2 linked regions of the Homo sapiens genome follow. The protein of the gene in region 1 interacts with the protein of each later gene in a pairwise test. Each region holds a gene or a part of one and is shown on either strand. Other genes may lie near its edges.

Region 1 (3,500 bases):
GAAGGAGAAGTAAGCTAACAGAAGTTATTTGTTTTCTACCTGAGTGTTTCCAGTCCCTTGGCACAAAAGCCAGGGAAATGTGAGATGCTGGTGAGCTGATCAACTTTGACTTTGTGGGATGTGCCATCTGGTACCTGATTTCGGGGCTCAGTGTGAGCCCCAAGTGATACTTGAGATAGGCTTAAAGCAGACCTTTGAAGTCACCTGCTTGATAGCACATCACAGCAAGCAGGCCTGTCTGCAGCACTGCCTGTGTCTCCGCCACATACCCGGAAGGCCACAGAACTACCGAGGAATCCTGCCAGACTGATTTAATGACCAGCAGGGGAGGTGAGTAATCGCTAACCTTTAAAAGACAAGAAAAGGAAAAAAAGAAAATCAACACCAGTTGTTATTTCTTACGGGAAGCCCTGAATAATATGTTGTGCTTGCAACTTCTGAATTCATATTTTGAACAAAAGGAGGCAGTGAGGAACTAGAAAAAGCTATTTTTATCTTCTTGCTCTCTAAGAAATCCTCTTGAGAATATTGTTTCTGCTATTTTGAAAGATCCCCATTGTTAGGTCTTCCACTTTAGGTTTAATTCATAGGCTTCAAGTACAGTTAAGATGATTTATGTAAGTGCAGTCGGTTATCTTGGGAGGTGATATCAGAAAAGGCTGATAGGGGAGTGGGGAAGTAAAACAGTGAGTAGCAGGAAGCCAATCAAGAGAGTATTATTAAGCAAGTGTCTACTGTGGGCAACTGGGGCTCAGTCTCACTAGGGAACTCTGGGAGACACTGTAGAATGTGTTGGAGAAATCTCAGTTGTGGATAAAGAAGCTGAATATTTTCTCCCCAACTCCAGCCATCATCGGCTGATTCAACTACATTTAGAAGCATTAAATTTCTGGCATTTTCATATGCTGTGTTTCTCCCTATATATATATATATATATATATATATATATATATATATATATATTTTTTTTTTTTTTTTTTTTTTAAAAGAATTGGGTACAGAGCTACAGGTGTTTGTGGCAAGCAACCTTAGCATGGAGAGGTGAGTGTGAGCTGAGACTATATGGGTGGGACCCTGAGAGCATCTGCCCTAAGGGTCTTATATTCATCTAGAGTTATACATCGAGAGATTTAGTGCCCCGTTTCTAGGGAATGGATATTCATCCCTTTACTCAACAAGATGGCTATGACCCTGTCTCCATGAAGCTTACAGTTAAGAATCATCCAGCATAGCTATTTAGTTATTCCCAAGTTTGACAAGTGCCAGTGGATGCTGGTAAAGATGACTCCAAACAGGGCCTAGACACCAACAGGATGTGTGGTTTTAGATGCCAGACCTCTACATTTGAGAGGCACATATTCATTCTCACCTTTATGAATACAGAAGTCTGCAGGCCCCCATCTTCACACATCTACTTTTGTTGTTCTCCCTAAAAGTGCCCTCCCTCCTCTCTTTAAGGACCAGTTCACATGCCTTCTACTTTATGAGGCTTTCTCAGATTCATGGCTTCTTCTCTCCCTTAAATCTATTGGGCTTTCATTCTTATACACATTCTTTAATGCAGAGCTGTAGACTCTTATGTAATTTGCTATATTGTCATGTGATCGTTTCTCTTAAGAGAGGTAATGAACTCTTCAGGGGCAGGAACAATGTCTGACACTGCCAGATCTCTCCTAGAGCCTAGCATAATGTGGAGTTTGCAGCAGGTGCTTAATAAATTGTTACTGGTTTATAGCTTGTAAGATGGAAAATGTGCTCTGCCTCCCTATTGATTTATTTTGGTCAAATATAATTTTGCCTGGTAGCATGACCATGTGATTTCTTGTGCTCTATATTCATTTTTCATCTTTGACAAATCTTGGTTTCAAACTTGTTGATAAGCAATAAGCATCCATTCTGTTTCCAGATCTGCTGCCATTTATATGAGGAGAAATTCTTGGAAAACCAAATATCTGACAACCTTCTCTGGTCCAAGTACAGTTTGGGAGGGTATGAACTTGACCTCAGTCCCCAATCAGTGGTGCATTTCCATGTGGGAGGGTGGATCCCTGTGCAGTTCCCAGTGAGCACCCTGGAACCCAAGTCCCCACACTACACATTCCCTTATTTACTTAAAGAAAAGTCTCAAAACATTGGCCACACCCATATTCAAATGTAAATAGGAAACACACTTAAAAGAAAACATCAAGGACAAGTGGTTTTCCTGACCATAGCACCAGTGTTCAGGAGATCACCATTCTGATGTTGCTTAGTCCCACTCTTCTTAAAAGTTAGCCCAGAGGAACAGAAAGTATTGTTCTAAGAGGCAAACTTAAAAGAAAATGATACTGGTACAAAATCAGCATATTTCTGTGAGTTTAATGGAAACACTAAAACTGCTAATTTTTCAGCGTGGAAGATAAAGATTCCTTTACCCATTCCTCCATGAGGCTCTCCTGCTGTCACTAATACCATGGCTTTGTCAATTCTTTCTAATTGTCTCAAGAAAAAATAATGCATCTCTGCTATAGAGCTGTCATTATAAATGCTCAAGAACATTTTGTGATATTTATACCTTAATTGTATGAGGTTTGAGTTGTTGGATTTTGTTTTTGGTCTTGTGGTATAGGCAAGTAGTCCTACTGAGTAAAGATTGTTTGATTGCTCTCAGACTTTCTAACATGCACACACGTCACCTAGGCATCTTGCTAAAATACAGACTGATTCAAAGGGTCTGGGGTGGGAACTGCAAGTCTGCATTTCTAACAAGATCTGAGGTGATGCTGATGCTACAGATCAGCAGAACACACTTGGAGTAGCAAGGCTCAAATTTAACTGTTGTAAACAGAAAACTGGATTTAGAATCAGGAAAGCCAAGTTCAAGTTCCAGTTCTCCTAAGTATGTATCTTTGGGCAAGTCACCTAACCTCCCTGAGAAACACGCTCCTTATTTGCACTGGGTGTAATAGCATCTCTTTCACCCACTTAAGGTAAAGATAGAATGAGATAAAGTATGTGAAGGCACTGTGTAACCATAGCCTTCTGTAAAGTGTGTTATCATTATTACTATTTACTTTGAAAATGACTGCTATTTCCTCACATGTGCCAGCTCTTTCAAAGCCATTATTGCCTGTTGAGTAATACACATGTAGCCACTTTTTTCTTTGATCCAACAGGCAATAATGGGTGCTCAAGCTACATTCAATACTCATATTGCCAATTTGTTGGTCTTTAATGACTCCATCTGAGTCATTACAGACAATTGGATTCAACCTACTGCTGAGCATGCAGCTCCTCTACCTGCAGAAAGTTCTTAGGCAGGCAGAGCTGCGGATGGGGATGGGTGCATTGCATTCCAGCACACCAACGTGGTTCCTCTGGGCTCAGAACCTACTCTTCATGCCTGATGGGGCTTTGCACACAAAAAAAGCCTTCACTTCCTGCCCAGGGAAGTGCCTTTTGAATTAAAGGTTCTGAGAGGCTGCGGGCTCTGGTTTCAGGGCTCTCCTCACCACATCTCA
Region 2 (3,500 bases), on another chromosome or scaffold:
AACTCCAGCCTGGAGACAGAGCAAGACTCCATCTCAAAAAAATAAAATTAGATAAATAAATAAATAAAAAGTGAATATTCTGCTGGATACAGAGGAGACTATGTTATAGATGCTTATGACATGTACACAAGAAGCATGTCTTTGTATGCATAGGCACAGCAGTGAAACAACATGAGAACACACACAGCCACATGTATCATGCAAGCAAGGTTGTCTCTTCTAAACCCTGCACACCGATGACACCAAAGACTGTTGCCCAGGTGTTCTTGGAAATTCTGAACCAGGTGAGAGAGGAGATGGGGGGCAGGGGAGGGAGGAGACACCAAAACACCAAGAGACTCCCAGGCAGAAAAAAAGTCTCTTGTTTTGAATGATGTTTTTAATAGTCAGTTACTAAGACAACTCTTTCTGGGAAGTCAGAGGACATGTCTCTCCCATCTCCCTACAACCATGTCGCTTGGGTTGTTAGTCTCCATGTGCACCCCCAGATCCATGACCTGCTTGAAGAAGCAGGAGGCTGGCCCATTGGACTGTCCCTTGAGCTCCCTTGCCTCCTGGTTTCTGGTTCCATTTGGCCAATAGAAGACACTGGCAGGGGCCGGGCACAGTGGCTCACGCCTGCAATCCCAGCATTTTGGGAGGCCAAGGTGGGTGGATGACTTGGGGTCAGGAGTTTGAGACCAGCCTGGCCAACAAGGTGAAACCCTGTCTCTACTAAAAATATAAAAATTAACTGGGTGTGGTGGCAGGCGCCTGTAGTCCCAGCTACTAGGGAGGCTGAGGCAGACCTGGGAGGTGGAAGTTGCAGTGAGCCAAGATCATGCTACTGCACTCTAGCCTGGACGACAGAGACTCTGTCTTAAAAAAAAAATAATAAAGAAGAAGGCACTGGCAGGAATTCAGAAGGTGGAAGGAGAGAGATCCTGGGTGTATCTTCCCCAATTTCTCTCTCTGTGGTCCTGGTGGTGGCTGAGCCCCTCTGCGACAGCTCCCTGCCCACCTCTACCAGTCACGGAACTCAGGTAACACCACTCCCTCCTGCTCATTCAGGCCGAGAGCTAGTAATGCCTTCTGTCACTGTTAGTTTGTGGGTGCCTCACCATCCCATGTGGGTTCCCCTCACCCTGCTCACATCTTTATTAACATCTCCTCAGGTGAAGCATCTGAGTGGAATTCTGTTTCCTGTCAGAATCTGACTGATCCACCACCTGATGCTCACTTAGGATAAGGGGAGCCTGAGAAGAGGCAGAATAAGCTAAGAAGTCAAGGAAGGCAAGGGAACCGTCAGGAAGCCCCTTAACCTCTTTGTGCCTCAGTTTCTTCATCTGTAAAGTCATGATGATAAACTTACATACCTCACAGGCTTACTGTGAAAATGGAATCAGATCATGCCTGTAAAACACTAAACACATACCAGAATATTAGAAATATTTGCTCCAGAAATATTACTCTCCAATTAAGTCCAAAGACTAAAATGTTAACAATAGCCTTCCCTTGGAGAAGGAAATAGGGGCCTTTTTCTCCGTATTTTTCAATTTTCTACTATGAGCATGTATTACTTTCGGAGTCAGAAAAGAAAAAAGAAGAATTACAAGAAAAAAAAAAAAAAACAGAAAGAGTGCCTATTAGGGCTTATTCTTTCTCTCACTTGCTGGAGATGATGTGACTTCCTTCCCAAGGGGACTTCCCCAGTATGGAACACTCACTTCCCTGAGTGATAATGTCTACATGGACGTGAATGAAAGGATGGAGGGTACAGGCTGAGAGAGCTGCCTCTGAGACCTCAAGCCACTTTCACAGCCAGGCAAGAAGGATCAAAAAGGGAGCTGAGTCTGCAGTCATCCTGTCTGGTGCTTGGATTTGTACATGGCAGTGGGGAGACGGCAATTCGTCAGAGGTTTGCAGTACCCACGGACACCACTTTAGACCAAACAATGTGAAAAGGCCACCACCCATCAGCCTTGGCTTCTTGCCCAAAAGCTTCACGGGCCACTAGGGAGCCTCAGGCTGATGTGCAGTGGTGGGCTGGGGACCACGTGACAGCACAGAACTGCAGAGTAACAGCATTAAAACGGAGACATGCGTCCCACCTGGCCCATCCTGATGACGATGCAGAAGGCAGAGAGAGACCTCCCGTTAGCAGGGTATCCTCCGAGAGCTGGGCAACATGCTGGCTGTCTTTTGGGCTTTATCTTATTTGAGCTGCACAAGGGCCACACGGAGTAGGTGAGCTTATTTCCCAGGCGGCTTAGTGGCCAAGGCCACATGGCTAGTCAGTTTCAAGGAGAGCCAGGACTAGGACTCAAGTCTGCTGGCTCACAGTCCAGTGCTCTCCCCACTCAATGCTGCTACATCCCACGACCTCCAACTTGCTGTAAGCCATATAACCAAAGCTACTGTTGCTCTGGATGTAGAAATAATAACGGCAGTATCAATCCCTCCCACATGCAGGGCACTTTACAACTTAAAGGATCTTTTTATAATCATTTTGCTTGGACCTCACCAATTAGCCACTGTTGAGAGTGGGCAGGAAACAGCAGTTACAGACATGGGCTTATGAGCCAGAGCTGGAATCCTGATGCCACAGGCTTGGTGACCTTGGGCAGGTTACTTAACCTCTATTGAGAAGACTATCCCCTGCACCTCCAAGGTGTATAGTGAGAATTAAATGAGATAGGCAGGGTGTGGTGGCTCACGCCTGTAATCTCAGCACTTTGGAAGGCCAAGGAGGGAGGATTGCTTGAGCCCAGGAGTTTGAGAGCAGTCTGGGCAACAGAGCGAGACACTGTCTTTACCCTGTGCCCCCCCCAAATTAGCCGGGCATGGTGGGGTGCACCTGTAGTCCCAGCTACTCAGGAGGCTGAGGCAGGAGGATCACTAGAGCCTGGGAGTTTGAGGTCACAGTGAGCTGTGACTATGCCACTGCACTCCAGCCTGGGTGACAGAGTGACAGGCTGTCTTTAAAAAAACAAGAATAACGACTGGGCCTGTAATCCCAGCACTTTGGGAGGCTGAGGCAGGCAGATCACCTGAGGTCAGGAGTTCGAGACCAGCCTGGCCAACACAGTGATAACCTGTCTCTACTAAAAATACAAGAACTAGCCAGGCAGGTGGCACGTGCCTGTAATCCCAGCTACTTGGGAGGCCAAGGCAGGAGAATTGCTTGAACCGGGGAGGCGGAGGTTGCAGTGAGCTGAGATCCTGCCACTGCACTCCAGCCTGGGCAACACAGCAAGACTCCATCTCAAAAACAAAACAAAAAAACCCAAAAAACAAACAAACAAAAAAATAAGAAGAATAAAATAAAAAGAAAAAATAGAAAAACAGATAATGCACATGAAGCTTGCTCTAGCACAGTATTTGACATATAGAAGACACTCAGTGGCAGCAATGGCTCTGATCACCACCAGACAGATGGACAAACTGAGGTACAGAGAAGGTAGAAAGCTTGTCCAAGGACAGTCTGGGTGTGGGCAGCTGCACAGCCCAAGCAGCAGCTT

Evidence for each region. Proteins that work in one complex are often made in the same cells at the same time.
Region 2: the proteins of PTCHD1 (region 1) and EPB41L1 interact in a two-hybrid assay, tested with the Homo sapiens proteins (one study listed by BioGRID and IntAct).

What each region holds. Positions count from the first base shown.
Region 1 is NC_000023.11:23,341,349-23,344,848, forward strand, and holds part of PTCHD1 (patched domain-containing protein 1), read left to right. Parts: intron 1-3,500. UniProt on the Homo sapiens protein: Required for the development and function of the thalamic reticular nucleus (TRN), a part of the thalamus that is critical for thalamocortical transmission, generation of sleep rhythms, sensorimotor processing and attention. Can bind cholesterol in vitro.
Region 2 is NC_000020.11:36,161,240-36,164,739, reverse strand, and holds part of EPB41L1 (band 4.1-like protein 1), read right to left. Parts: intron 1-3,500. UniProt on the Homo sapiens protein: May function to confer stability and plasticity to neuronal membrane via multiple interactions, including the spectrin-actin-based cytoskeleton, integral membrane channels and membrane-associated guanylate kinases.